Linked DNA regions of Homo sapiens: regions 1, 2 and 4 are each reported to be linked to region 3. Evidence: microRNA targets listed by miRTarBase, many of them from high-throughput screens and not tested one by one. Region 3 holds a microRNA gene; each other region holds the end of a gene's coding sequence.

Region 1 (7,123 bases), not on the chromosome of region 3:
TTATTAGTATGTAAAGCAGTTCTAATTTGGAGCTGTAAAATTGCTTCTAAAAACTCGTAATAGAATAAACTGAGAGTCATCCATAATTAGATTTTTTTAATAGGACTTCTAACTTGTTTTCATTATCCAGCTGTGTTTGAACTCAGCCAGCTGTTGATGGAACTGAGGTGGTTGTAAGGGTTGGGGAAAAGAAGAGGAAGCTCATCTCTGCAGAGTGGGTAGGGGAAGCTTTAGTTCTCAGTTTAAAACAGTGGTTCTCAAAGTGTGGTCTCCCAACCTGCAGCATCAGAGTCTCATGGGAACTTGTTAGAAATGATTTCTTGGGCCCTACTCCAGACCCACTGGATCCGGCCATCAGGTGAAGTTCAAAGAACTTGGTTCAGATGTAGTGTTCACTAAATTACAGACAGCAGTCAAGATTTTAGGAAGAGCTGGTTGAAAATAATTGCCTTGACTGGCTCTAGTGACCCCCCAAGGAACACATGCCACTTACATGTATGTTCTCTTCATTCATCATTTATGGGTATATTTGTATTACTCCACAGGGCTGACGATTTGGTATTAGACTTGCTAATGAGCAGCAGCCATGTGCTCCTGCTATCTGACAGTCGGTACAGTCACAAGTATATTGTATGCAGCAGAGAAGAGCTTAACAGCCAGCCTCCTTCCACATTCTGCTCTCAGGAAATAAGCAAGGGGAGGATCCAGAAGTGTCATTTGACACTGACGACAGAGTACTTATTTCCTATGCAAAAGAGCCCAGGCAGAAAGACAAACCTAAATAAGAATCTAACTTCTGTAAGAAGCTGTGAAGAGTGATGCTGGCAGCTGCCTTTGCAGACTCTAACTCCAGCAGCATGAATGTGTCCTTTGCTCACCTCCACTTTGCCGGAGGGTACCTGCCCTCTGATTCCCAGGACTGGAGAACCATCATCCCGGCTCTCTTGGTGGCTGTCTGCCTGGTGGGCTTCGTGGGAAACCTGTGTGTGATTGGCATCCTCCTTCACAATGCTTGGAAAGGAAAGCCATCCATGATCCACTCCCTGATTCTGAATCTCAGCCTGGCTGATCTCTCCCTCCTGCTGTTTTCTGCACCTATCCGAGCTACGGCGTACTCCAAAAGTGTTTGGGATCTAGGCTGGTTTGTCTGCAAGTCCTCTGACTGGTTTATCCACACATGCATGGCAGCCAAGAGCCTGACAATCGTTGTGGTGGCCAAAGTATGCTTCATGTATGCAAGTGACCCAGCCAAGCAAGTGAGTATCCACAACTACACCATCTGGTCAGTGCTGGTGGCCATCTGGACTGTGGCTAGCCTGTTACCCCTGCCGGAATGGTTCTTTAGCACCATCAGGCATCATGAAGGTGTGGAAATGTGCCTCGTGGATGTACCAGCTGTGGCTGAAGAGTTTATGTCGATGTTTGGTAAGCTCTACCCACTCCTGGCATTTGGCCTTCCATTATTTTTTGCCAGCTTTTATTTCTGGAGAGCTTATGACCAATGTAAAAAACGAGGAACTAAGACTCAAAATCTTAGAAACCAGATACGCTCAAAGCAAGTCACAGTGATGCTGCTGAGCATTGCCATCATCTCTGCTCTCTTGTGGCTCCCCGAATGGGTAGCTTGGCTGTGGGTATGGCATCTGAAGGCTGCAGGCCCGGCCCCACCACAAGGTTTCATAGCCCTGTCTCAAGTCTTGATGTTTTCCATCTCTTCAGCAAATCCTCTCATTTTTCTTGTGATGTCGGAAGAGTTCAGGGAAGGCTTGAAAGGTGTATGGAAATGGATGATAACCAAAAAACCTCCAACTGTCTCAGAGTCTCAGGAAACACCAGCTGGCAACTCAGAGGGTCTTCCTGACAAGGTTCCATCTCCAGAATCCCCAGCATCCATACCAGAAAAAGAGAAACCCAGCTCTCCCTCCTCTGGCAAAGGGAAAACTGAGAAGGCAGAGATTCCCATCCTTCCTGACGTAGAGCAGTTTTGGCATGAGAGGGACACAGTCCCTTCTGTACAGGACAATGACCCTATCCCCTGGGAACATGAAGATCAAGAGACAGGGGAAGGTGTTAAATAGATTTAAGTTTCAAAGCAAAACAAACTGTGATTATTGTATTTACTTGTACTGCTGCTTATCAATATTGCTGACTTTACAAACTGATATAATTATTACCATTAGGAATTATAAAAATATTTCACAATCTACACTTTCCAAATGTGCAATGTGGTAAGTAGAGAACCATGTTAGAAGTAATAATTGTTTCAGAATTAGAACTTGGCTTCCCAAACAATTTAAGTGTTGTGTAAAGATGTTGCTGTCAAAGTGATTAGACAGCCTGGCTATTCTGTCATTTGTTCACAGTGGTTTTACTGGGTACCCCCTAGGACCAGCCCTGTAGTGGACCGGCTGGAGCCTGCAGTAGAGGTTCTGTCAAAGCTGAGCCCCTTTACCTTCAGTTTCACCCAGGACCTGCTAGTCCTAATTTTACCTACTAAATTGTATTTCACATAACCAAAGCTCAAAATCTACTTTCACTTGAGATTTTTAACACATTAATGATAAATTTTAATGCGTTCTTCATTTACTTAATAAGTGTTAATTTACTTGATGAAAAGTCCGTATCATAATGTTCATGACTGAAGGTCAAAGAAAAAGAAACAGCACCTTATTCCAATTCTGGACTCATTTCAAGCCATGGCTGGTTCTGGCCAAGTTTAAATAAATTCAAACTTAAACTAAAGCCTGCTTCAGTGAACTTTTTAAAGCTACCTGAATGAGTCTTCAGTTTCTAAGTCTAAGAATTGTAGCAGCTTTCCAATGACATTCAGTAGTCTGATATGGGGGAAAAAATACTTAAAAAAATGTCCTCTCTTCACTTCCAAAATGTGGGAAAGTTATTTTTCTATAAGCAGAAATGTGTTCCTCCTAATATCTCCTTTCTCCCAAGATAAACCATGGTTAATGATATAGGTATAGATTACTCCTCAAATACAAATAGAAGATGGAGATGGTGATCTTTCTTGTTAATGGTACTAAACTTACCCTTACTCAGAACATTGAACTTGAACCCTACTCAACTTTTAAAATACTATAGGCTAAGTTATAAAAATAATCTAGCAACCTGAGAAAGAGATTAATATCAAAAAGAGAAAATTCAACAAACCAAGACAGAATTTGGTTAAGAATACAAAATAAAAAGCATAAGGGCAATGCAGAAAGCAGTAAAACTGTGTACCCAGACATACGGTAAAATCTGAGTAACAGGCAATAACCATTCATTTTATAGCAAGGTAAAACATACCCAATAAAACATGATTATGATATATTTCTGCCCCTTTTAAGTATAATGACATTCACCCATGATTCTTGATTACTTTGTTATGGAACTCGGGTATTTTCACTGAAAGTTTCCCTCAGAATAGAAATGCCTTTAGGGCAAACCAAGCCATGGAGAATCTGAAATATAAAGGATATGTTATGGAAAAAAAAAGATTTTGCTTTTTGTCTATGGGTTTCCGGATTCTTTGCTTTTTCATAAGTGGTCATAGTTTGCTTTTTAACACAGGAGGTAGGGCTGTATTCTTTTTACATCCTTCATTACAAATTTTATTTGAAGCTCATGTATTCAAATAAAGTAAAATTTAACCCAAGAATCCAAAATATTGTCTTGTGATATGGTAGTTATAAAAAGGATTATCATTGTCTGTGATTATTTGAATAAATAATTTTTATGTTCATTATATGTAGTAAATTTAGGATGTAAGCTTCCAGGGTTTGACACTTTAAACTTGTAAAGAAATAAAAATAATTACGCTTTACTTCCGATAGTTTTTGGAGATTTAAAGCTGTCTTTGTCTTGAATTATCATTCCAAAATCATTATTAGGAACAATGGAGCTTTATGGGGCTGTTTGACCTTAACACTGGAACAGGTCTCAAGGTGAACTGATTTTCAGAGTTTGCTAACAAGCACCAAATCAAGATGCAGACACTGGAACAAAGAGTAATTACAATGAACCTTTCATTAAGAACCTGATACACAAAGTTAAGTCCCGACTTGATCCCTTAAAAAATCTGCTTAGAGAAGTTTGATTTGTATCTTATCTGATCAAACCCAGATACTTTAAGACAAAAGTAGGAAATTAGAACAGATATCACCAAACTGTTTTCTTCTCACTTCTCTACTGTGAGAAACAACGTAGTAAGTGGGCAAACAATATTATGTGGAATTCAGAATAACAAAATAAGGCATTCTGGAAACTTTACCCTTGTGAGACAGTCGTATTTCTACATACTACATAATAGTTGTGCTCCTTTTGGCAAGCACTTCAATTTCATTCCTCACAGTACTTAAAAATCACTCAATGAACTTATAAAATGAACTTCAAAGAAAGAAAAAAAAGGAAACAGAAGGCGGCCAGGTGTGGCGGTTGACGCCTGTAATCCTAGCACTTTGGGTGGCCGAGGTGGGAGAATGGCTTGAGGCTAGGAGTTTGAGGCCAGCCTGGGCAACAGAGTGAAACCATTTCCAAAAAAATTTTAAAAAGAAAAAAAAAAAAGCCAGACATGGTAATGCATGCCTGCAGTCTCAGCTACTCAGAAGGATCACTGAAACCAGGAGTTCAAAGTTACAGTGAGCTATGATGGCACCACTGCACCCCAGCCTAGGAGACAGAGTAAGATCCTTTGTACGCATAAAAAGAAAAAACATATCCTGTTTATCAACTTTACAGCTGAAGACCTTAGTCTGATCAATGCCAGGTTCCTACATAAAGAGTTCACAAAATTTCCATGGCACTTAATAGATTTAAGCTATGAACTATATAACATGGATGTGAATGTGTGTGTCTGTGACTGTATGCACACAACATACAAATACAGATCTGTTGGTATTCCTTCTTTCTAGGATTTGTTACAATCATAGTCGGTATGAGATAATGGAAAATAAATTATTCTATTAACATATATATTTTGTTAAACATTTTATTTATGTGGCACTCTGAAACGAGCAACCTATGAAGGCATAAAATAAAAAGATTTTTTTTTAACTCGGGAGGTAAAGCTAGATATATCAATTAGGAACTGATTCATGGTGTGATGTACACGACATGTTGAAAGAATGCCAAAAAGGCGCAAACCATCATACATTAATACAAAGGACAAAAACAAAAAAAACCCCAGCATCTTCTTGCTATGAGGCAATAAGGCACTGCTAAGAGACTTGAGCACCAAAATGATTCTCTACAAATTCCTTCCTTTTTATACTGCAAATACTGCATTATTATATTCAAACCTTTAAAAACTAGGTAATACTTAAGATTTAGAGTCAACTTACTTTGTGGGAAATTCTATTTGCTGCTTTTAAAAACAGGTTAAAATAAGCTCTTAAAAATTAAGTAACAATAATCATATACAATACAGATATATAAAAAGGGTTGGTTTATTGTAGTTCAAATACATAAACTGAACATTCAAACATCTTAAAATTAAACTTTAGCAACAAAGTTTAACATTCAAACAGGAGTATAGTTTACAAGAAACACCCAGAAAGGTAATTTGTTGTCTAATCCAGAATATTGATAAAGATCACTTAATGGTGAATAAAATATGTTTAACCAGTGGTTCTATTCTGGCCAACATGTTAGTTATGACCGTGGTTCCATACCTGAGAAGAAATTACTACATAAATCTTCTCTTAGGCTAAACAACAAGACTCGGTCTATAATTCAGAGGGGATAATCAAAGCACGTAAGTGAACAAATAAAACTAATCTGATCTTTAGAGACAAAGGTAAAAGTATTGTCCATTATAATAATTGTAGCCTCTGGAAGATAAGAATTCAATTTTCAGTGTTTTCTCTTTTACCCGCTTTAAAAAAAAAAAATCAAAACAAAACAAACCCCAACTCGGGTTTTCTTGGAGTCTGTGGTATTTGCATCTGGCAAGTTCAAGCCACAAATGCTCTTACTTCTTGCATGTATTAACACTGCTAGGAAGAACGTCACCAAGTCACTGACTTCCACACCTCATAAAAGGATGAATTTTAGCTTCAAGATTTTAAGATTTACTAGAGACAGCCTATATTTGAGTATGTATGTCAGTCATGCCACACAAAGAAAAGCATAAATATTTCCAAAGTGTTCTGTTCAGAAACTGTTCACAAATGCTTCTCCTTCTGTTTGTCAGATGGTTTCGCAATAGGTTGACTAATGCACATATATGTAAAAACCTGAAAATTGGCTCATGCAAGCATTTTGAATAGATGCCCCTATGGAAGAGTATTTAGAATTATTTTGTTGATCGTCTCGTGGGCTCCGATGCTGTGGGAGGTGGGGGTGGACCCCGGCGATCCAGGTCATCAACATATGCCACAATCAGTTTACGCCTCTCCTCTGGCACACAGTCCAGTACTAGATACCGTTTGTCATTCTGTAAAATTTTTTCTACATCTTTCAGGTGCTGATCTGATTCTTGGATTAATTTTTTGGATCTGAAATAAGAAAAAGAAGTCCAAGAATTACTGACTGCTGTTCACAGGTCTTTCAGAAATGAGCTGGAAATGTCCATCTAGTTCCTAATTGTGTTTCCATTTTTTTTTTTTTTTTTTTTTTTAAGAAAAATTTCACGGCAGTGGTCACCTTTGTAAGTCGCCTCAGCAAAGACTCCAAGGAGTGAAAGGGCCTCAGAAGCTGAATTACCCTCCCACCCCTAGTGGTGGTCCCTCCAGATCAGGGCTGAGGGTGGGTGGGTAAATCTTGCCCGTGCTGTACCTGTTCTGTGGATGAACAGAGGACTTCAGTCTGCGGGGCTGCCAATCCCAGCATCTTTCACAAGCTTTCACTTTCACATCTTTCACTAAATTAACTATAAAAATGTAGAAAGAAGTCTTACTTCACATCTAATTTAAAAGCCCAAGCTGATGCAAAACATTAAGGATCCTGACCAAAAAATCCAAATGACAAAATATCTAAAAACCACACCCTCAGCACTATCTAGCCTCCCGTGCACATACCCTTTATTAAGATGTTTCAAATTTCTCTCTTAAAGAAGAAAAGCTGGAGCATGAAACAAAAATGGTTTCCTGCATACTGACTGGTAAGCAATGCGAAATTGTTTTCCTGA
Region 2 (7,123 bases), not on the chromosome of region 3:
TGAGGATCAAATTATTTTTTTTTTTGAGACGGAGTCTCACTCTGTTGCCCAGACTGGAGTGCAGTGACATGATCTTGGCTCACTGCAACCTCTGCCTCCTGGGTTCAAGTGATTCTCCTGCCTCAGCCTCCCGAGTAGCTGGGATTACAGTAGGCATCTGCTACCTCGCCCGGCTTTTTCTTTTTTTTGAGATGGAGTCTCGCTGGGTCACCAGGCTGGAGTGCAGTGGTGCGATCTCAGCTCACTGCAACCTCTACCTCCTGGGTTCAAATGATTCTCCTGCCTCAGCCTCCCAAGTAGCTGGGACTACAGACATGCGCCACCACACCCAGCAAATTTTTATATTTTTAGTAGAGACAGGGTTTCACCATGTTTGCCAGGATGGTCTCGATCTCTTGACCGCATGATCCGCCTGCCTTGGCCTCCCAAAGTGTTGGGATTACAGGCGTGAGCCACCATGCCCAGCCCTTTTTTTTTTTTTTTGTATGTTTAGTAGAGATGGGGTTTCACCATGTTGGCTAGGCTGGTCTTGAACTCCTGGCCTCAAGTGATCCACCCACCTTGGCCTCCAAAGTACTGGGATTACAGACGGGAGCCACTGTGCCTGGCCCAATTATTTTAAATAGCTGTGAATTCAAGCAAATATATCTGAAGATTTACTGACAAACAAGGAGCTTTGTTCTTGAATCTATGGCAGCTTCAGAGAAATTAAGACTGCTTTAAAAATGAGTATTTTCTAATGTATTGTAGCAACAAAAGTTACATTCAACTATATATAGAATAAAATGTTTTAAAATCATACTGTAGTTTGTTAAGGCATACAATAATAGAAAGTCATCTTGGGATCTCACGAGTAACGTTCAACTCTTTAGAAACCAGGTTAACTCTGCATAGTTCTGGTCTAGACCTGTGCCATCTAACTTGGCCACTATGCACGTGTGGCTACTGAGCATTTGAAATGTGGCTGGTCCAAACTGAGATGCATCATCAATGTAACATACACACTGGATTTCAAAGACTTGGTATGAGAAAATATAAAGTATCTTAATATTACAGTAGAAATATTTTGGCATATTGGACTGAATATTAAAAATAATTTCAACTGTTTTTAATGTGGCTCACAAAATTTAAAATCATGTGGCTAATTACACTTTATTGAACGGCCTTGTTCATCCAGTTCATTAAAGTGTACAAGAGAGCTGAAACATTGGCTGTGTGATGTGATCCCATTCATAAGAATCTCATCCTCCCGGCCAGGCGCAGTGGCTCATGCCTGTAACCCCAGCACTTTGGGAGGCTGAGGCGGGTGAATCACCTGAGGTCAGGAGTTTGAGACCAGCCTGGCCAACATGGCAAAACCCCGTCTTTACTAAAAATACAAAAATTAGATGGGTGTTGTGGCACATACTTTGAATCCCAGCTACTCGGGAGGCTGAAGCAGGAGAATCACTTGAACCCAGGAGACAGAGGTTGCCGTGAGCCGAGATCACGTCACTGCACTCCAGCCTGGGGGACAGAGCAGGGGAAAAAAACAAAACAAAACAAAAAACACAACTCTTTTCTAGGGAGTGACTCAGGCCGCCACTACCCAAGCAGACGAAGAGAGCTGGCTTTTATATATGCTTCTGCATGGAAAGGCCACATAGCCTATGCTTACAGGCCCTTGGCCAGAACCATGCCCCTCCATGACTTATGTAAGTAGGGTGACTTGGGATAGTGCATGGGTACTTAGCAGTAAATGCCTCTGTCATAAGACATGGTGTTAAGTTTTGGGTTTCTTGAAACATTCAAAGTTAAACACAAGTACTCTTCTACGTATGTTGGAAAAAGGAGGGAATAAAATCAGGATGTGGTCACTTCTGTCAGAGGAGTACTGGAGCCAGTCAAGAGGGTAAAATCTTAATTAACAAAGCCTATGTAGATTGTTTATATTTCCTTCCTTTTTTAGTCAAAGGAAAACTATTATACAAACATATATGGAAAATGACAAGCAGAGGCTCCTCCTTCCATATTATGTTGACAGTAAGTTGTATATAAACTGTAGCTAATGTGGACAAATCTAAATAGTTGTCTATTGCAGTCTTGTAGAAAGAACTCTAGTTGAATTCTAGTTACCTACGTTATCTTTTTTTTTTTTTTACCGCCTTCCCAAGATGGAGTCTTGCTGTCACCCAGGCTGGAGTGCAGTGGCACGATCTTGGCTCACCGCAACCTACGCCTCCCTGGTTCAAGTGATTCTCCCGCCTCAGCCTCCCAAGTAGCTGGGATTACAGACATGTGCCACCATGCCTGGCTAATTTTTGTATTTTTAGTGAGACAGGGTTTCACCAGGTTGGCCAGGCTGGTCTTGAACTCCTGACCTCATGATCCGCCCAACTCAGCCTCCCAAAGTGCCAGGACTACAGGTGTGAGCCACCACACCCAGCCTTTTATTTTTTATTTTTCCTGAAGAGACAGGGTCTTCTTGCTATTGCCCAGGCTGGAGTGCAGTGGCACAAATATAGCTCACTGTAACCTCAAATTCCTGGGCTCAAGTGATCCTCCAACCTCAGACTTCTAAGTAGCTAGGACTATAGGTGTGCGCCACCAGGCCCAGCTAATTTTTAAAACATTTTTGTAGAGATGGGGGTCTCACTATGTTGCCAGGCTCTACTTATGTATCTCTACTGTTCAATATGCATATACCATGTTTGGCTATACTCTTTCTGCTATGTTCTTGGCCTTTATAAAAATATAAATATGGCCGGGCGCGGTGGCTCACGCCTATAATCCCAGCACTTTGGGAGGCTGAGGTGGGTGGATCACGAGGTCAGGAGTTCAAGACCAGCCTGGCCAAAATGGTGAAACCCTGTCTCTACTAAAAATACAAAAATTAGCCAGGCACAGTGGCGGGATCCCAGCTACTTGGGAGACTGAGGCAGGAGAATCGCTTGAACCAGGGCTGCAGAGGTTACAGTGAGCTGAGATTGAGCACCCCAGCATGGGTGACAGAGTGAGATTCTGTCTCAAAAAAAAAAAAAAAAAAAAATATATATATATATATATATATAAAATATATAAATATGTACCATATGTTACAACGCTAGTTACTTTTGCATTTCTAAGTTGTTTACACAAATGCAGAAATACAGAATCTGGCAGCCAGTAATTCAACCCAGCTCTATCTTCCTGCTGCTATCTATCTCTCCATCCCCATGCATATACAACCCTTCCCCATCCCTAACACAGTGACATGAAACACAACAGATGTTTTAAGTGTACATCATACATTTATTACCAACAACCCTCTCAACTCCAAAATTGGGCACAGGGATTAAAAATAAAAATTCATTGCACTACTTAGTAAAGCATTACTAGTAACTTTCATAAAAAATGTACAAACTTTGTTAAAAATTTATCAAGCCTTCAAATGATTTGGTTACAGATATTTATAATACATACATTTAAAACTATATGTTAACTGATACAATGGAATATGATTTGAGAAAATGACTCAGCAAATGATTCCAAAAAACACCCCTGTGAGCTTTCACAATCTGAAACGGCAAAATGAGGTAACCAAATGTACCAACAGGGGGACAAACAAACAGCTTTCTAATGAAAAGGCCCAAAGATAATCTGTGAAAAATATTCTCACAAGTGAGTCGGTAGATCTCATTCAAAATTATTCTAAGAGGCCCAAATTTAAGAATCTTAACAAATCACATTTCAGATAGTATATAAAATCTAAATATGCTTTCACATTTTCCAGATTTTGCTCAAAAAATTAAGGACAGAAAATCCTAATATGAGATCTTGATACCTGGAGGCCTTATTTTTTTGAGGGGCTGGGGGTTAAAAAAACACCAAAGATGACAATTCATGCCAAAAAACAAACAAGAACCCACAAAAAACCCACAGCTGAGTTAAGATGGTAAAGCCAATATTATTTTAGGAGGAAAGAGGACGAAGGCCAATGAACCAACATCTGCCTGCTATCTGGTGCATCACCCAAGGTGACCAATGGCTGGGCACAAATAAACTTCTCTTTTGCTAGCCACAGAGTTGCTCACTGTGGCAAGCCTGAGCTGGTCAGAACACCTGTGTGTGTGTTCCTGATACACACTAACCACAATAAGCAAGTCTGCACACATCTCTATGAGCCCCATGCAAAGACAAGACATTCCCAAAGATCAGTCACTAGAGTGCAACAACGAAATTCAAGATTTGACCAAAACAGACCCTGCTGCCTCCTAAATTGCCAATTGCCTCTCAAAAACTTACAGAAAAAGGGACATTATAAGAATTCATAGAGGGAGAGAAGAAAAAGCTGCTACTCCTAGTCATTAGTACAATGTGCTGTGTTAATTAGATACCTCTATATAAATTAGAAAAAGTGCTTTACTTGCATGCTTCAATAAAATGAATACTGAGTGTCGTAGTGTTAGATCTGTACAGATATAAATTTTTTGCAGCTATATAAAAGTGTATAAGATGGGCTTTTGCCATTTTAAACATGATTTTTTTTCATTAAAAAAGATTAAACTATATGTGATTTGTATGTAGCTGATTATTATGCCAAGAATTTTGGTCTTTAACACACTTTTTATTCATCAGGAACAGGTGAGGGATATCCTAATGATTTAAAAGTAACATGTGCATTAACCATGTGCATTTTTACCACTATTTAGAAGTATTTCTGATGCACTGACAACCCTAGGGGCAAACACAGTATGCAAAACCCTACTTGTAGGACTAGATAGAGGCAACAATGTCTCGCAAAGGGCAAAATTGTGCTTCTGTGAATTGACTTTACTTAACTCTAGGCTGTGATGAGCTTATAGACACTTCAAGGGAGGGCAAGCAGCATGGCAGTAACAAGTAGTTAACACTGAATGGAAAACTGACACAGAGCCAACTGAAAGTTGAGTGGGGCTGGCAGCAAGTTATCACAGTCCTGACTGGAATAATGCAGCTTGTGCTATTGCAAACAAAGCAATTACATCAACTGCAGGAAGAGGCAGACAATGTTGAATACACTAAAAGAATGAGAAAGTAATTTAAACATTGCTGGAAAAATGACTTTAAAGTGAATTATGCTCAAAGAACTTACTAAAAAAAACCCCATACAGCTATGTATTACATCAACTAAATGAAGGTCAACTCCTGTTTAACAGCATTATTTTTTTATACAAAAACCAAATCTTCATTTATACTGCAAGTATTCTGGACACCTGTTGTATTAAACTTTTCTCATTCAAACAAAAATTAAAAGGAAAGGCAGTAAAATATCAAAACAAATCAGGTCTAAGGAACATGAGCTGTAACAGCACTTGATCCATCCTGAAACCAGGGTTTCGATGAGAAGCACGTGTGATGAAGGAAGAACTAGACAACTTTCAGAATTGGAGTCTGGCAAGTGAATTAATATGAACAGAAATAGAGTTTTCTTAAAACAATTGAGTTGCCCACAGGAGCTTGAACACAGAACACATATGAGAAGTCAAGCTGAATTAACAGGTTTTGTTCTGGTGGAAGTCAACAAGGTGAGACTTCATGGGACTAGTGGTCTTCTTAGAAATATATTAATCAAATATCTTCAGAATAGACTAGACTACAAATCTAAACATTAAAAAAAATCACAGGTACTTTCTGTAAGAAACTTACTGGAAATGTAAAGGAAAAAAAAGTATCAACATTCAAATCACTGATTGAAATGCTAATATTGCTAACTGATGATATATGATATTGCACCTTCTTTTTGGAAACAGCAAGTTGGAGATTTAAAAATTTCCACAACAGAATAAAAAAAAACCAGGTTCATGGAGCGAGAATTTGTTACACTTTTTTTTCTTAAGTGACCCACTTAGGACCACCAATAAAGAGAAGGTGACAGCTGCCTGAAGCAAAGGAAGAAGGCTTTTCTCATTCCATTCACTGGGAGGGAAGGGGATGGAGTATTCAATGCTTGTAATTGATGCACCCTCAGCAATCAGTGTGCAACAGCAAACACAAGGGAAAAAAACCAGTGTACAGTACTAGTGCTGTTTAAATAACACACCAGATTATACATTGCAGCATAATTAAAACTACACACACATTCTTGGTACATGCTGGTATATAGGATCTCATACACACGTTAGCTACCATGCCCTCACACAAGTAGTTGCACACACTCACACAGATACACTTATCACCAACAGTCATACGCTGCGCATTCATTTCCACTCACAGTTTCTGAAGGCTCTATATAAGGTAGATTGCTATATCATCTGTAGCTACCACTTTTTATAAAAGCACATGCTAAAAGATCACGTCCACTGTAATCTTGCAGCAACACTCGGAATGATCACACAAAAACCAGGGAATGTTAGTGCACACACAAAATTAAGCTAAAGAAAAAGTCTTTGGAGTTCCAATCACACGGTTAGTATAACAATCCCATAACTGTGAAGACTAATTGTAAGCTTTTATAGTTGATTAAGTCACACAGTGCAAAGAAAGGTCCATTGACCCTTTTGGTAAAGGGAGGGCTGGAAGCCACACAGATTAAGTTCAATGGATAGTCCGTATATACATGTGATGAGGAACACCCAAACTAAATTTGTGCTTCTTAGGTTGGTCATTCTGAATCCCGATGCACTTCTGAAGCATCAGCTCGGCAAATTGGGCAAGTACGATTTGCCTACAAAACAAAAAGGAAAACTTGTTTAAATTGTGACACATACAATGAAACACATTCAAAGCAATGGAACTACTTTTACTTCCCACAGTTTTTACATTCTTTCTTCCTCTGAAGAGGTACAAAGCAATTTTTGCCTTTTTTTAACCCATAAACCTCCGAATTAGCCCAGGAATTTTTTTTTTGAGATGGAGTTTCGCTCTTGTTGCCCAGGCTGGAGTGCAATGGCACGATCTCAACTCACTGCAACCACTGCCTCCTGGGTTCAAGCGATTCTCCCGTCTCAGCCTCCCGAGCAGCTGAGATTACAGGTGCCCACCACCATGCCTGGCTAATTTTTGTATTTTAGTAGAGACGGGGTTTCACCATGTTGGTCAGGCTGGTCTCAAACTCCTGACCTCGGGTGATCCACCCACCATGGCCTCCCAAGGTGCTGGGATTACAGGCGTGAGCCACTGCGCC
Region 3 (7,123 bases):
TTTCTCCGGCTTTGATTTGTCACCACCACTGCCCCCCATCCCCCAGTGTGCAGGCCAGACATCTGGGAGTCTTTGATGCCTTCTTTGATGCCTTCTCCTCAGCCCACATCCGAAGGGTCCCAGTGCCGTGGGGTCTGCCTCTGCACCCCTGTAAGCACCAGTAATTGCTGGACAAATGTGTTCTGGGTTCACAGTTATCAGCCTCAATTTGCACGGCCACGGAACAACTGGTGAAACCATGAGCCCTGATGTTACTTCAGGAACGTTTCATTTTATTAGCGTGATGAAAGCGTTTATGGAGCTCTGTGATATATAATTATGCTCTCATTTTACAGATTAGTAGCTTGAGGCTGAACTTACTTTTTTTTTTTTTTTTTTTGAGATGGAGTCTCACTCTGTCGCCCAGGCTGGAGTGCAGTGGCACAATCTCGGCTCACTACAACCTCTGCCTCCCAGGTTCAAGCAATTCTCCTGCCTCAGCCTCCTCAGTAGTTGGGATTATAGGCACTCACCACCATCCCCAGCTAATTTTTGTATTTTTAGTAGAGACGGGGTTTTGCCATGTTGGCCAGGTTGATCTTGAACTCCTGACCTCAGGTGATCCACACACCTCGGCCTCCCAAAGTGTTGGGATTACAGGCATGAGCCACCACGCCCGGTCAAGGCTGAACTTTCTTATCCCTTCATAGAAACCCTGCCGCTTCTCTCCACCAATTATAATGAAAATTAATGGCTACTTCTATACAAGTGAATTCATAAGCAATAATTTTGGGACCAATGACATGTGAGTTGTGAGAAATAAAACTGCATCTTTCCAGAGAGGATGTCCAGCCAGCATCCCGGATAGAGGACCCTTACCCTCATGGTGGTCTTCAGTGGGCTGGATGGTAGTTATGGTGGGAAGAGTGGAGTATGTCGCCTGCCTTCTGTGAAGCTCTGGAGGGAACATGGCTCCCCCATCACTGCACCCCAGCTCTGAGCACCACTAGAACCCAACAGGCCTTTGCTGAATGGATGCCAACGTTCCTGCATCCACCCCTAGTTAGGGAGGAGAGAGATTAGTGGGGAGCTATGGGGGAGTGTGTGGGCTGTGAGGAGAGGTGACAGAAGGGACTCCAGGCTAGAGGAGGCCCGCCCACTTGGAGCAGAGGCCCCTGGACAGGTAAGGGGAGAATGTTCGGGGAGGGAGCAGGAGACTGGGCTGGGGCAGGTGATTTACCTGAATGTACAGGTAAGTACTCAACAGATGCGTTCTGGGATTGCTGCTATCAGCCTCAATTTGCACAGCCACAGAACAATTTCTCTGCTAAACACCTTCTCCGTCTTGGGTCTGGGACCTGGGCACACATCCTGGTCCCACATGCAATATGATGTATTGCTCACCTCCCATACACCACGCACTATCTAAGTGCTGGGCATATTCAAGGAACCTCTCTGCCAGTGGGAGATGAGAAACAACAAACAGATGGCTCATGCCTGTAATCCCACAAACAGGCCAGACGCGGTGGCTCATACCTGTAATCCCAGCACTTTGGGAGGCTGAGGCGGTTGATCACAAGGTCAGGAGTTCAAGACCAGCCTGGCCAACATAGTGAAACCCGGTCTCTACTAAAAATACAAAAACTTAACCCGGCCTGGTGGCGGGCACCTGTAATCCCAGCTACTCGGGAGGCTGAGGCAGGAGAATCATTTGAACCCAGGAGGTGGAGGTTGCAGTGAGCCGAGATTGCGAGATTGTGATTGCGCCACTATACTCCAGCCCGGGCAACAGTGGGAGACTCCTTCAAAAAACAAACAAACAAAAGCATGATAATCATGGGAAGTGGGGCAGGAACAGGCAGAGGACAGAAAGAAGAGAAGAGAACGGTGAGCGCTAAAAGGAAACATTTTCAGAATCTTGGGTAGGGAAGCCCTTCCTCAGCGTGTTACAAAACCCAGAAGCCATGAAGAAAAAGACGGGCTAATTTCAATAAGTAAACCTTAAGCTCTGTGGAGGAAGAAGGCTTTGGGCAGGAGATGAGAGAGGGGCAAGGAGGGGTGAAAGCAATGACCAGGACCACAATGACCACAATCAGATGGTGGCCCCGGGCCCCTGAGGCCCCAGATGGTGGGGTGGATAGACAGGGCGCCCAGCACACAGCTCCACCCCATCACCCCCAAGGTCACTCCACTCCTGTCCCTGCCACTCTGGCCTCCTGCTGGCACTCCGTGCTGTTCCTATCCCCGTCTCTCCTTTCTCAGCCCCACAACCCGTCAGTGGACTCTGGGTTCAAGCTGTCTCTGGTCTGGCAACTCCCCTGCTCATCCCCTACTTCCTCCGCCTCCACTCCCACCCATGGACTTGACGGTGAGAGAGGAGGTAAAACCAGTCACTTGGGCCCTGAGGAAGGCACCTGTCCCTGCCTTGACACAAGCCTGCCGGGGGCTCCCTCACTCCGCTTTCCCAGGCACCCCCGCCCTGCCCTGGACATGCTAGAGTTCCTCCCAAAGACGTTCAGGCCCGAGGAGTCCTGAGGGCTGTCCCCACCCTGCCCCAGAGTGGCCACCTCCCTCGCAGTCCCGCCTGGGCGTCCTAGCTCAGGTGCCCTTTCGGGACCTGTCACAAGGCCATCCACAGCCTCAGCAACCTCTGCCCTCCTTTGCATCTGCACCTGCCCACTGCTGACCACCCCATAGGCCATGCCTAGACCCTGCCTGAAAGCTGGGCTTCTTGGCCCCTTAGGACCAGGGAAAAAAATTGAAATTGTTGGGACATCCAGGGCTTTCAAACGCCTGGAGTGGAGTCCAGGAATGTCAGGCAGGGAGGCAGGAAGAATAAACCCCGTGGGTCTAGGCAGAAGACAAGGCCAGTGAAACAGTCGCATTGTCCCTGGAAGAATGGAAGCAGAGCCAGGTGTGGGGAGGCAGGCCCAGCCCCGAGCGCCAGGGGTGTGCTCTGGACCCCGCCCCGCTGGACAGGAGCTGGGTTGCTCAGTGATATGCACAAGCAGCCAGGTACCAGCAAGGCCATGCCAGAGAGAAGGAAGCTTCCTGTATCCCAGGGACACCAGACCCTGCTGCCCTGGGCCAGCTGAGAACCCCCTGCGCCCCCCCTCCCCTGCAGCCCCCAGGTGCGGAGGAGGGATCTCTCCAAGGGAGCGAGACGATCAAAAGGAGGTGCCTGTAAATCACCACGGAGCCTCCCTCTCTGCTTTCCATGCACCGGGGAGCCTTCCCAGAGCTCAGATGTGGTTCAAGGACCCCTCGGAGATCCCAGCCTGACGTGGCTCCCTCCAGCCACGGTTCAGCCCCCTCGGCCAGGGAGGAGGGTGGGTAGGGGCAGGGGAGGCCTTCCACTAGACTCAGGTTTTTGCCACACAGGTCTGACTTCCCACTCCCACCCCAACAACGCACACACACACACACGCATGCACACACACGCATGCACACACACACATGCACACACACACGCACACACTCAGGCCCAGCGATGCACACGCCACACAGCTGGGGGCCAGCCACCCAACACCTTCCATTGGGCGGGAGGTCCAGCTTTGACCACCTGCAGCATCCCTGCCCAAACTAAGGCCATCTCAAAGGGTCAGTATGCCTAGGGCCATGTGCTCCTGGAAATTGTCCGGCCACACCTTCTCCCCAGAAGCCAACATTTGCTTTAGAAAAATTGGACTGATGCTTGAACCGGGAGGCGGAGCTTGCCATGAGCCAAGATGGCGCCACTGCACTCCAGCCTGGGTGACAGAGCAAGACTCCATCTCAAAAAAAAAAAAAAAAAGAAAAGAAAAATCGGATTGAAATGAACACCCAGGGCCCTGTTGCAGGGGGAATGGGGGATGCCATGAGGCTGCACCACGGCAGTCCTTACACCCCTGGGCAGAGGTTCCTGGACAGGTGAGTCAGTCTTCAGACCCCAACTCCTTCCGCCTACCTGGAGCTTCCTGTGCAGCGGCAGCTTGAAGCTGTGGGGAGCATGGTTAGAAGTCAGTTCCAATGACAGCTTCACCCTTTCCTTGTGGCCTTGGGCAAGTCACTTGGCCTCTTTGATGAGCTCCAGGTTCCCCGTTTATCAAGTTTATCAACCGTAGAGGGACCAGGCACATAGTAAATACCCCTCTCCTAAGCCCTGCCAGGGGCCACCATAGCTCATGGTCAATATGAATAATAAGGGGGCTGTGTGTCATCTCAGTCCCACACAGGCACCATCTCATTCAACCCTCACAAGCAGCCCGCCTGGGAGATACTCCTATTATCTCCACTTTACAGATGAGACGATGGGGCTCAGGGTGGTTAAGAACTTGTCCAAGGTCACAGGAAGATGCAAGCCAAGGTCTGTCTGATGCCAACACCCAGGTGCCCTGAATCAACTGCTGGCACTGCCCCTTAGTTCGGCTCGGCCCCACCTCAGCTGACCCCTGGGGCCTCTCCTAAGGCTCTAGAGGGGAGGGGCGTTGAAGCTTTGCACACACAAGAAGCCACACAGCCAAGCAAATGAGCGATGTGGCTCCCAGGGGAACTGGGCTCATGCCCCTGGACTGCTAATGGCCCCCAGGTTTACATCTTCCACTCCAGGCTTGGGTCATCAAATCCCTGACGTCCCACTCAACTTATCTGAGATGGGGCCTCCCCCGCCTCCCCTGCTCTGCCCTCTGTTCCCAAGCCACCACCACGTCTCAGTGGGTTCTGGCGACAGCCTCCTCACTGGTCCCCCACCTCCCACTTACTATCCAGAATTCCTGCTGAGTCCTGCAGTGACTCCCACAACCACCACGGTCACTCAGAGCAAAAACCAAAGCCCCCAGGAGGCCCCCCAGGCCCCTGGGTGACACAGAGGCTCTGCTGACTCCTCTCCTCCCACCCTCCCCCTCACCTGTCCACTCCAGCCACACTGGCCCCTTTGCCGTCCCTAGAACCCCCCAAGCATGCTCCCACCTAGGGACCTTTGACTAGCTGCGTCCTCAGCCTGGGCACCCTGCCTCCAGAGAATGACATCTCCAGCCTCTCATCCTTCAGGTCTCTGCTCAGGTATCTTCTCAGTGGCCCTCCCTGAGAGGCCATGTAACACAGCCCTCCTTTTCCCCTCACGCTGCTGAATTTCGTTCCCTAGCATGCGTCACTATGTGCCATATTACTAATGGCTTGTCTGTTTAATGTCTACCTCATCACAGAGGACACACGCTTCTATGAAAGTAGAAGCCTCTCCCGCCTTCTTATCTCCCGTTCATGCTTGGAGCCTAGAACAGTGCCTGGCACAAAGCAGACCCTCGAGAAACATTTTTTGAAGGAATGAATGAAGGAATGTTGGCATAGTGGTGGGGCTGAGGATTGGGAAGGAAGGGTGGAGAGAAGCAGGAAAGGGAAATGTATGGAAGCAGACATGAAAAAGCTGCGCAGAAGTGTGCATGTGTGTGCAGGGGTGGACACGACACACACACGCACACACACACAGGTGTCAGTACGGTAACCATGGATGAATCGCGAGGCCAACAGGCAGAGACACAAATGCACTATCTACTAACAAACACAGACGCACACCACACAGATACGCTCACACACAAATACACACACACATGCACATCCCCAGATATACACATACGTCCTCATACATGCATCCCCAAATATACACATACATGCACATACACCCTGGCGCGCACACACACACACACACACACACACACACACACACACACACACAGAGCTCCTTACCAGAACTCTGCTCTGGCCCCACATCCCCCTCACCCCAACTCTACACCCGGCTCCCAGGCAGGGAAGGAGCTTTTCCAGGTGACCTCACTGAGCGGGAGTTAAACTCCACCAGCTCTTTTTCAAAGCGGATTTGGCTCCAGTCTCCCTTGTAATCTGCTCCTGGATCAGTGCTCACAGGGGCGCTGGCCCTGGCCTAAGGTCAGGACCTCTCACCTTCTCCCAGGAAGTCCCACTGAGTCCTCCCCCACCCCCAGACCCCCAATCAGCTGCTTCCCCTGACCAGTATAACCTGCTGAGCTGAATTCTTGCTGGGTATTTTCAAACAATTCCAGTTATTTGGGGGGAGGGGTGGTACTGTGATCCCCAGGAGGGGTTTGGTATGGGGGTGGGGGCTAGGGAGCAGAGGGGATGCCCGTCAGGGTGGGACAGCCTCTAAGTTGCCTGTGCTGCAACAGCGACCTGGCCCCACCCCACTCTCTTTTTCAGCCTCTTCCAGCCCGACTCCAGCCTCTGTTTCCCGAAAACATGCCACCTTTCAAACCTCCAGGCCTTTCCACTTGCAGGGCCGTCTGCGCTTACTTCCCCAGTGAGTAAACTCCTCCACATCCTTCAAAGCCTCAGTCCGATGTCCTTGCCACTTCTAGGCTGGGGCTGCCACCGCCCTCTGCCCGTCCTGGTCTCTGTGTTATCCTGGCCTGGCTGAGTGTCTCCCTCCTGTCTAGATGGAGGTCTCTGAGAGCAGGAGGCACAGTGATGCCGCCAATACCTAGTGCAGATGCCAGTGCAGGGCCTGACCCCGAGCACAGGCCCAGGAAATGCTTATAGAATGTGAAAAAGGGGTTGGGGGAGGGTAATGCAGAGGTCTGGACGAGGCACCTGGATCCGTCTCTCCCTTGCTTCTGCCTTGAGCCAGACATGTACCCTCTCTGGCCTGCTGTTCCTAGGAGCCTGGGCTCACTGAGGCCTCAGAAGGGCTGACCCCAGAAGGAAGAGGTGGGGCCTAGAAGGAGCTGCCATGGCCAGGTGGGGGCTGGTTGTGGCCCTCAGGGTCGAGAGAGGGAGGGCTGCTGCTGTCTCACACGTCTTTACTGTCACCAGCACCACTGTCACCAGCACCATCCCTAAGACCACCGCCACTAACTTCAAGACCACCACCCTCCCCCGCAGCACCATCCTCCTGTATGGTGCCAGCACCACTGTGATCATCGGCACACTGCCCACACCACTCTTACATCCCTCTATCTGCACAAGCGCGTGTGTACACACACACATGCACACACACACTGTTCTCCAAAGCACAACTGTATCATTTTTGTCTCTGGACACCCCCACCCCACCACCACCACCCAGTGAAGAGCCTGGCACATTCTAGAAGCTCCATGTCGAGGACTGAAGGAAGGACTCGGTGGAGGAGGATGGCTCC
Region 4 (7,123 bases), not on the chromosome of region 3:
CCTGAGATTTGTAAGCTTCATCCCATCACAGAGTTCCCTTGCTTTTCATTTGACCCCAGAAGTGATTGCAAGTTCTTTTCAACAGTTGAATATTTGAAAGGATTTTATTCTTGATCCCTGTACAGAATTATCTTATCAGTGATTTGCTTAATGTTAGAGTTCCAAGAAATTTAATTTGAACTTGTAAATATCTTTATTTCATTGGAAGATTCCAATGGGTGGAAAAGAACGAATGGCAGGATTTCCTCCTCTTGTTGCTGAAGACATTATGTTAAAAGAAGGACTGGGGGCATCTGAAGCAGTGGCCGACATCAAGTTTTCCTCTGCAGGTAATTTTATGCCAAGCACTTTTTAAAAAGTGAATAAAAGGGCAGGCACGGTGGCTCACACCTGTAATCCCAGCACTTTGTGAGGCCGAGGTGGGCGGATCACCTGAGGTCGGGAGTTTGAGACCAACCTGACCAACATGGAGAAACCCCGTCTCTACTAAAAGTACAAAATTAGCCGGGCATGGTGGCGCATGCCTGTAATTCCAGCTACTCGGGAGGCTGAGGCAGGAGAATCGCTTGAACCCAGGAGGCGGAGGTTGCGGTGAGCCTAGATCATGCCATTGCACTCCAGCCTGGGCAACAAGAGCCAAACTCCATCTCAAAAAAAAAAAACAAAAAGTGAATAAAGCAGCCTTACCGACAATTTTTTTTATAGAAAAGTGCCTTAACTGATGAAAGCTGATTATTTTAAGGTGTACATACTAGTTTATTCATAAAATACAACCTATTCTGAAAATAAATTTGTACTTTGCACAAACGCATTGTATGCTTTTTTAAAACTAAGGTGTGTCCACCTGTGCCCCCAGCTTCTCGGGACGCCGAGGCAGTACGATCGCTTGAGCCCAGGAACTTGAGTTCAGCCTGGGTAACATAGCAAGACGCAGTTTCTTAAAAAATAATAAAATAATAAGAGAGTGAAAGAGAGTGACAGCGTTCTCTGATAGTCCATTTTCAGCTTTGGTTTGGTATTTTTAATAAGATGATTGCTAACAGCCTTTTGTGTTGTGTCACATGCCTGCATAGGTTGGGTTTCAGTAACACCTAATTTTAAGGACAGACTGCATCTCCGAGGCTATACACCTGAAGGAACAGTTTTGACCGTCCGGCCCCCTCTCTTGCCATATATTGTTAACATCAAAGGACAGCGCATCAAGAAAAGTGTGGCCTATAAAACCAAGAAGCCTCCTTCCCTTATGTACAACGTGAGGAAGAAGAAAGGAAAGATAAATGTATGAGACCGACCTTGTTCACTCCAGATATTAACTGTATTGAACACAACAAAATACATTGAATTTGTATTAAACATATAACGCATAAATAAAGCTCCCATTCTTACCCTTTTTTTCTTTTTTCTTTTTTTTTTTTTCTGAGACTGAGCCCTGCTCTGTTGCCCAGGTTGGAGTGCAGTGGCACGATCTTGGCTCACTGTAACCTCTACCTCCCAGGTTCAAGCAATCCTCCTGCCTCAGCCCCCCAGTAGCTGGGATTACAGGCATGCGCCACTATGCCCAGCTAAGTTTTGTATTTTTAGTAGAGATGGGGTTTCACCATGTTGGCCAGGCTGGTCTCGAACTCCTGACCTCAGGTGATCCATCCGCCTCAGCCTCCCAAAGTGCTGGGAATACAGGCGTGAGCCGCCGCGGCCAGCCTCACCCTTTTCAAAGCTCTTAACAGTTAACTTTTTTAAACTATTCAAGACTTATGTTCATAATGTATTCAGCTTATAAAAAGTTTTTTTTTTTGTATAGTATGTATATGGTATGTATCTGTGACCCACATATATATAAAATTGGAAGCCTGCTATATTCAAGTTTCTCCCACTACTGTTGTTTCTTTTTTTTTTTTTTTTTTTTTTTTTGAGACAGGGTCTTGCTCTGTCACCCAGGCTGAAGTACAGTGGTGCAATCTCGGCTCACTGCAAATTCCACCTCCTGGATTCAAGCAATTCTCATGCCTCAGCTTCCTGAGTAGCTAGGATAACAGGTATGCACCACCACCCCTGGCTAATTTTTGTATTTTTAGTAGAGACAAGTTCTCACCATGTTGTCCACCCACCTCGGTCTCCTAAAGTTCTGGGATTACAAGTGTGAGCCACCATGCCCCGCCTCACTACTGTTTTTTATATTGAGACCAGATGTCATTTCTCTTATTTGGAGTTAGCAGTCAGTATATGAAAAAATGGCAGGAAAATTAATTTCTCCAAAATTCATTGGCTTAAATAAGATAGAAGTGAGTAGGTGGCTCTGCTCCAAGGATCCAGCTGGTGGAACATTCCATGGCCATCTGTAGGTCTAAGGTGGCTGCCCAAGTTGTCATCCTTTTCCAGCAAGGGTAAAAAGGGGGAAAGTATGGAGAGCAAGCAACTTCCCTATTTAAAAGAAGGGAAGAAAAGCTGGATGTTGCACACATCAGTTTACATAGTCCACAGGTCAAGTCACATGGCCACACCCACCCATAAGGAAGCTGGGAAATGGAGGAGGAAATGGGAACCATTTGGGGTTTTTATTAAGGAAAAATGGGGAGAATGGATACTAGAGAACAAGTAGAAATTTACCTTACACAATTTGACAATGCCTGAAAATCTTAGATAAAAAAGGATTCAAGGCCAGATGTAGTGGCTCACACCTGTAATCCCAGCACTTTGGGAAGCCAAGGCAGGAGAATCGCTTGAGGCCAGGAGTTCAAGATCAGCCTGGTCAACATAGTGAGACCCCATCTCTATTATTTTTTTTAATAAAAATGAATTGTCGGCTGGACACAGTGGCTCAACGCCTGTAATCCCAGCACTCTGGGAGGCCAAGGCAAGTGGATCACCTGAGGTCAGGAGTTAGAGACTAGCCTGGACAACATGGTGAAACCCCATCTCTACTAAAAACACAAAAATTAGCCAGGCGTGGTGGGCACCTGTAATCCCAGCTACTCGGGAGGCTGAGGCAGGAGAATTGCACGAACCCAGGAGAAGGAAGTTGCAGTGAGCCGAGATCACACCACTGCACTCCAGCCTGGGCAACAAGAGCAAAACTTCATCCCAAAAAAACTAAATAAATAAAGATTTTTAAAAAGCTATGTATTTCTAGCAACTGAGGTCTATTCTGCAACTGAGAGGACACTTTAACCATTTTATTTACATTTCATCTTTATATGACTGAATAACATTACATCAATCAGAAGTCTTTATTGGCCAGGAGCAGTGGCTCATGCCTGTAATCCCAACATTTTGGGATGCCAAGGCAGGAGGATTGCTTGAGTTTAGGAGTTCAAGACCAGCCTGGGCAACACAGCAAGACCTCATCTCTACTAAAACCCAAAAAAATTAGCCAGGTGTGGCGCTGTGTGCCTGTAATCTCAGCTACTGGAGAGGCTGAGTCAGGAGGATCACTTGAGCCTGGGATATGGAGGCTGCAGTGAGCTATGATCACATTACTGCACTCCAGCCTGGGCAACAGAGCGAGACCCTGTCTGAAAAAAGGAAAAAAGAAAAAGTCTACACCTTTTGTTATTCCTAGCTGAGTAAGTAGTACCACAGCTGTGTCATGAAGAATTGGCAAGTCAAGTCCCAGATCCTAATGTTGAAATAAATGCTGGTAAGATAAGCTAGGCTGAAACGCAGTTAGAGCCATGAAATTCCTGAGAGGACCATGTTCTGTCCCAACATATGGGAGCCCCCATGTATTTCACACTCTCCTGTCTTCTCCCCACTCCTCAGTCCTCTTCTAAGTCCTCTTAGATTAAATATAATGGAGAATTTTTTAAGATGATGCAACTTGTTGTAGACCTTTCATAGTGTTTCAAAGTGAGTACTACTGGTATCTTGGGCAAGGTGGTTCTTTCTTTATATATAAAACTGCATTTCAGCCGGGCGCGGTGGCTCACGCCTGTAATCCCAGCACTTTGGAAGACCGAGGCGGGCGGATCATGAGATCAGGAGATTGAGACCATCCTGGCCAACAAGGTGAAACCCCGTCTCTACTAAAAATACAAAAATTAGCTGACTGCGCTGGCGCGTGCCTGTAGTCCCAGCTACTCCGGAGACTGGGGCAGGAAAATCCCTGGAACCTGGTAGGCGGAAGCTGCAGTGAGCCAAGATCGCGCCACTGCAGTCCAGCCTGGGCAACAGAGCAAGACTCCGTCTCAAAAAAAAACAAAAAAACTGCATTTCATTATGTCTGGTATCTCTCATCCCAGACACTAAATGCAGTAGCAACTCCCTCTGCTGTCAGTCCTGGTGACAACTGGAAAGTGCCCCCAACATCATATTACCTCTAGAGGGCGGCAGCTTCCCAAATGGAGAAAATTGATTGGCAGTTGATTTCTAGTTTTTATTTTGGAGGGAATGAAATACCATTTATTTTATAAGTTAAAATTGTGTCTGGGTGCGGTGGCTCACACCTGTAATCCAACACTTTGGGAGGCCAAGGTGGGTGGATCACCTGAGGTCGGGAGTTCGAGAGCAGCCTGACCAACATGGAGAAACCCCATCTCTACTAAAAAAAAAATACAAAATTAGCCAGGTGTGGTGGCACATGCCTGTAATCCCAGCTACTTGGGAGGCTGAGGCAGGAGAATCGCTTGAACCCGGGAGGCAGAGGTTGCGATGAGCTAAGACCGTGCCATTGCACTCCAGCCTGGGCACAAGAGCAAAACTCCATCTCAAAAAAAAAAAAAAAAATTATGGTCATTATATTTCTACCTATGGTTGAAAACAGGAGTTCACAGTTCAGAGCTTAGGCCAGGATATTTAGGTAGAATTAAAACAAAAAACAGGCAGGAAAGAAAGCCAGCAAAGGGTGAACTGGGCCTTTGTGGAGAAACAATCTAAAAACTGACTACTATCACCCTGACAACTTAAGAAAATGTATTTCAGAAAACAGGGCTCACACCCATAATCCAAACACTTTGGGAGGCCAAGGCAGGAGGATCCCTTGAAGCCAGGCATTCAAGACCAGCCCTGGCAACATAGTTAAGACCCTGTCTCTACAAAAAAAAAAATTTAATTTAGCTGGGCATGGTGACACCCACCTGTAGTCTCAGCTATTCAGGAGGCTGAGGTGGGAAGATCCCTTGAGCCTGGGAGGTTGAGGCTGCAGTAAGCCATGATTGCACCACTGCACTCCAGCCTGGGTGACAGAGCAAGACTCCATCTCAAAAAAAAAAAAAGCAGGAAAGAAAGCCAGCAAAAAGAGTGAGAAAGATGCTCTATGCCTAGAATTAGTTGAGGACTTCTACTGGGATCTGGTATTAATTTATTCCATATTGTGCCTCCAATTTAATGCAGCCTAGGATCACTGCTAGGATCAAGTGTTTCCTAGTAGATTTTCCTTTAAGAAAGTTCCATTACTGTATTGGTGCAGTAGTGCATTGCTTAGCAACAGGGATGTGTTCTAAGAAATGCATCGTTAGGCAATTTCATCTTTGGACAAACATCATAAAGTGTATTTACACAAACCTAGATGGTATAGCCTACTCTACACCTAGGCTGTATGGTATAGCCTATGGCTCCTAGGCTACAAACCTGTACAACATGTTGCTGTACTGAATTCTGTAGGCAATTGTAACACAAATCATTAGGCAATAGGTATTTTCTGACTCCATTATAATTTTACCAGACTACGGCTGTATATGTGGCCCATTGCTGACCAAGAAGTCATTATGCGATACATGACTGTACTTCTTTATCCATTAATCTGAATATAACGACATCTTTTGAATCAGTAGTCACTTACACTATGACAGGGTACAAGAATTAGTGGGCTCTTCTGGCCAGGAACGGGAGGAGAAATTAAGGGCAAAGTACCAACTCCTCACTTCCACAGATCACAGAGGTGGTTAGGGGTTGCTAGAAAACAATGAAGCAAGTTTATTCTAGATTGTTTACCTGGCTCTGCAGCACTGTGGTGTTGAGCATGTCACCTCTTTTGTATTCATGACACCCAAAAGAAGTAAAATAAATTCCATCAAAGTACTTTTTGACTTTTATGTGATATTAGGTTCAAAGTTTTATTTTAAAAAGTTACACGTAATCCCTCTGCTTTTCCCCCCTCTAATTAAACTAAAATAACAACATCTTCTTCAAAGTTACTAAGACAAATTAAAGTTGTAATATGTTTTGTATCTTTAATCACCATAAATGCCAAGCTGTGCCGATCACTAAGTCTTTACTGTATAGTTCCCCAGAGTCTAGTTTATTTAACTTGAGACACTCACTTCCCATAACAACCAAGGAGAAGCGGAGTAGAGATGCAATCTTGTGTGCCTGTGTCTCTAGTGTTCAGACTCTTCTTGCACAATGGACATAGGCTGGTTTCCTGCAGCTGACTAACATGGAGGAGCTCCAGCTGTGTCAGCCATGACAGAGTTGTTATTGCTTCACTGAGTAAGCACCCAGCGCGCAAGCTGAGGCGGGCTGTTTCATAGACGGGCTCGGATCATTTACCCTGGCTTCCCTCCCACTTGGCTCTGTGTCGTGGAGCATTAGAATCATTTCCATTCTTTCTCAGCTGTTCCATTTTCTTTTGGCCACTTTCCTCCTCCCAGGGGGATTGTTTTCTCTCAATTGTCAAAGAGTAATGCTTAAACATTAAAAACAAGATTTCAGACTCGTGAATCAAATCGATGACACCTCTGCCTGCTCTGAATGTCTCTCTGTCATATTATCTGCCCCCATTAAGACCTTGTCGTGAGAGGGGAATGGTTCAAGATAGGTTTTTTTGTTTTTTGTTTTGTTGTTGTTGTTTTATTTTTTCAGAGACAGGGTCTCACTCGGCTGCCCAGGCTGGAGTGTAGTGGTGTAATCACAGCTCAACGCAGCCTTGACCTCCTGGGCTCAAGTGATACTCCCGCCTCAGCCACCCGAGTAGCTGGAACTATAGGCAGGTGCCACCACACCCAGCTAAATTTTTTATTTTTGTAGAGACAGGGTCTCACTTTGTTGCCCAGGCTGGTCTCAAACTCCTAGCTTCACCAATCCTCCCACCTCAGCCTCCCAAAGTGCTGGGATTACAGGTGTGAGCCACCACACCAGGCCAAGATTACTATTTTAACATCATATTGCAGTGATGCCTCACCTTTTCCCT

What was found. The annotated mature microRNA hsa-miR-4418 reads CACUGCAGGACUCAGCAG and lies in region 3 at 4,731-4,748, opposite strand. An mRNA with a match to its seed (bases 2 to 7 or 8) in the 3' UTR can be bound and repressed. Matches are read on the target gene's strand: a 7mer-m8 pairs with bases 2 to 8, a 7mer-A1 pairs with bases 2 to 7 and ends in A, and an 8mer does both.
Region 1: the mRNA of TCERG1 is a reported target of hsa-miR-4418. Seed matches in the 3' UTR shown: 7mer-A1 at 5,273-5,279 and 7mer-A1 at 5,264-5,270.
Region 2: miRTarBase lists RNF38 as a target of hsa-miR-4418. Seed matches in the 3' UTR shown: 7mer-A1 at 5,193-5,199 and 7mer-m8 at 4,987-4,993.
Region 4: the mRNA of NOA1 is a reported target of hsa-miR-4418. The part of its 3' UTR that is shown has no 7-base or 8-base seed match.

Annotation. Positions count from the first base shown.
Region 1 is chr5:146,509,809-146,516,931 of GRCh38, reverse strand. TCERG1 (transcription elongation regulator 1) reads right to left here. Exons shown (of 23, transcript NM_001382548.1): 23 at 4,971-6,491. The coding sequence ends at 6,290. GPR151 (G protein-coupled receptor 151) reads left to right here and starts at 742. Exons shown (of 1, transcript NM_194251.3): 1 at 742-3,788. The coding sequence starts at 819. The coding sequence ends at 2,078. RefSeq lists a silencer at 6,100-6,300.
Region 2 is chr9:36,333,151-36,340,273 of GRCh38, forward strand. It overlaps RNF38 (ring finger protein 38), which reads right to left. Exons shown (of 12, transcript NM_022781.5): 12 at 3,250-6,664. The coding sequence ends at 6,602. Among named protein-coding and RNA genes, the nearest start is that of RNF38, 64 kb to the right of the region's middle.
Region 3 is chr1:22,263,902-22,271,024 of GRCh38, reverse strand. MIR4418 (microRNA 4418) reads right to left here and starts at 4,786; the gene lies at 4,725-4,786. RefSeq lists enhancers at 4,044-4,563, 5,220-6,102, 6,103-6,986.
Region 4 is chr4:56,957,612-56,964,734 of GRCh38, reverse strand. It overlaps NOA1 (nitric oxide associated 1), which reads left to right. Exons shown (of 7, transcript NM_032313.4): 6 at 209-329; 7 at 1,074-1,385. The coding sequence ends at 1,285. Among named protein-coding and RNA genes, the nearest start is that of NOA1, 16 kb to the left of the region's middle.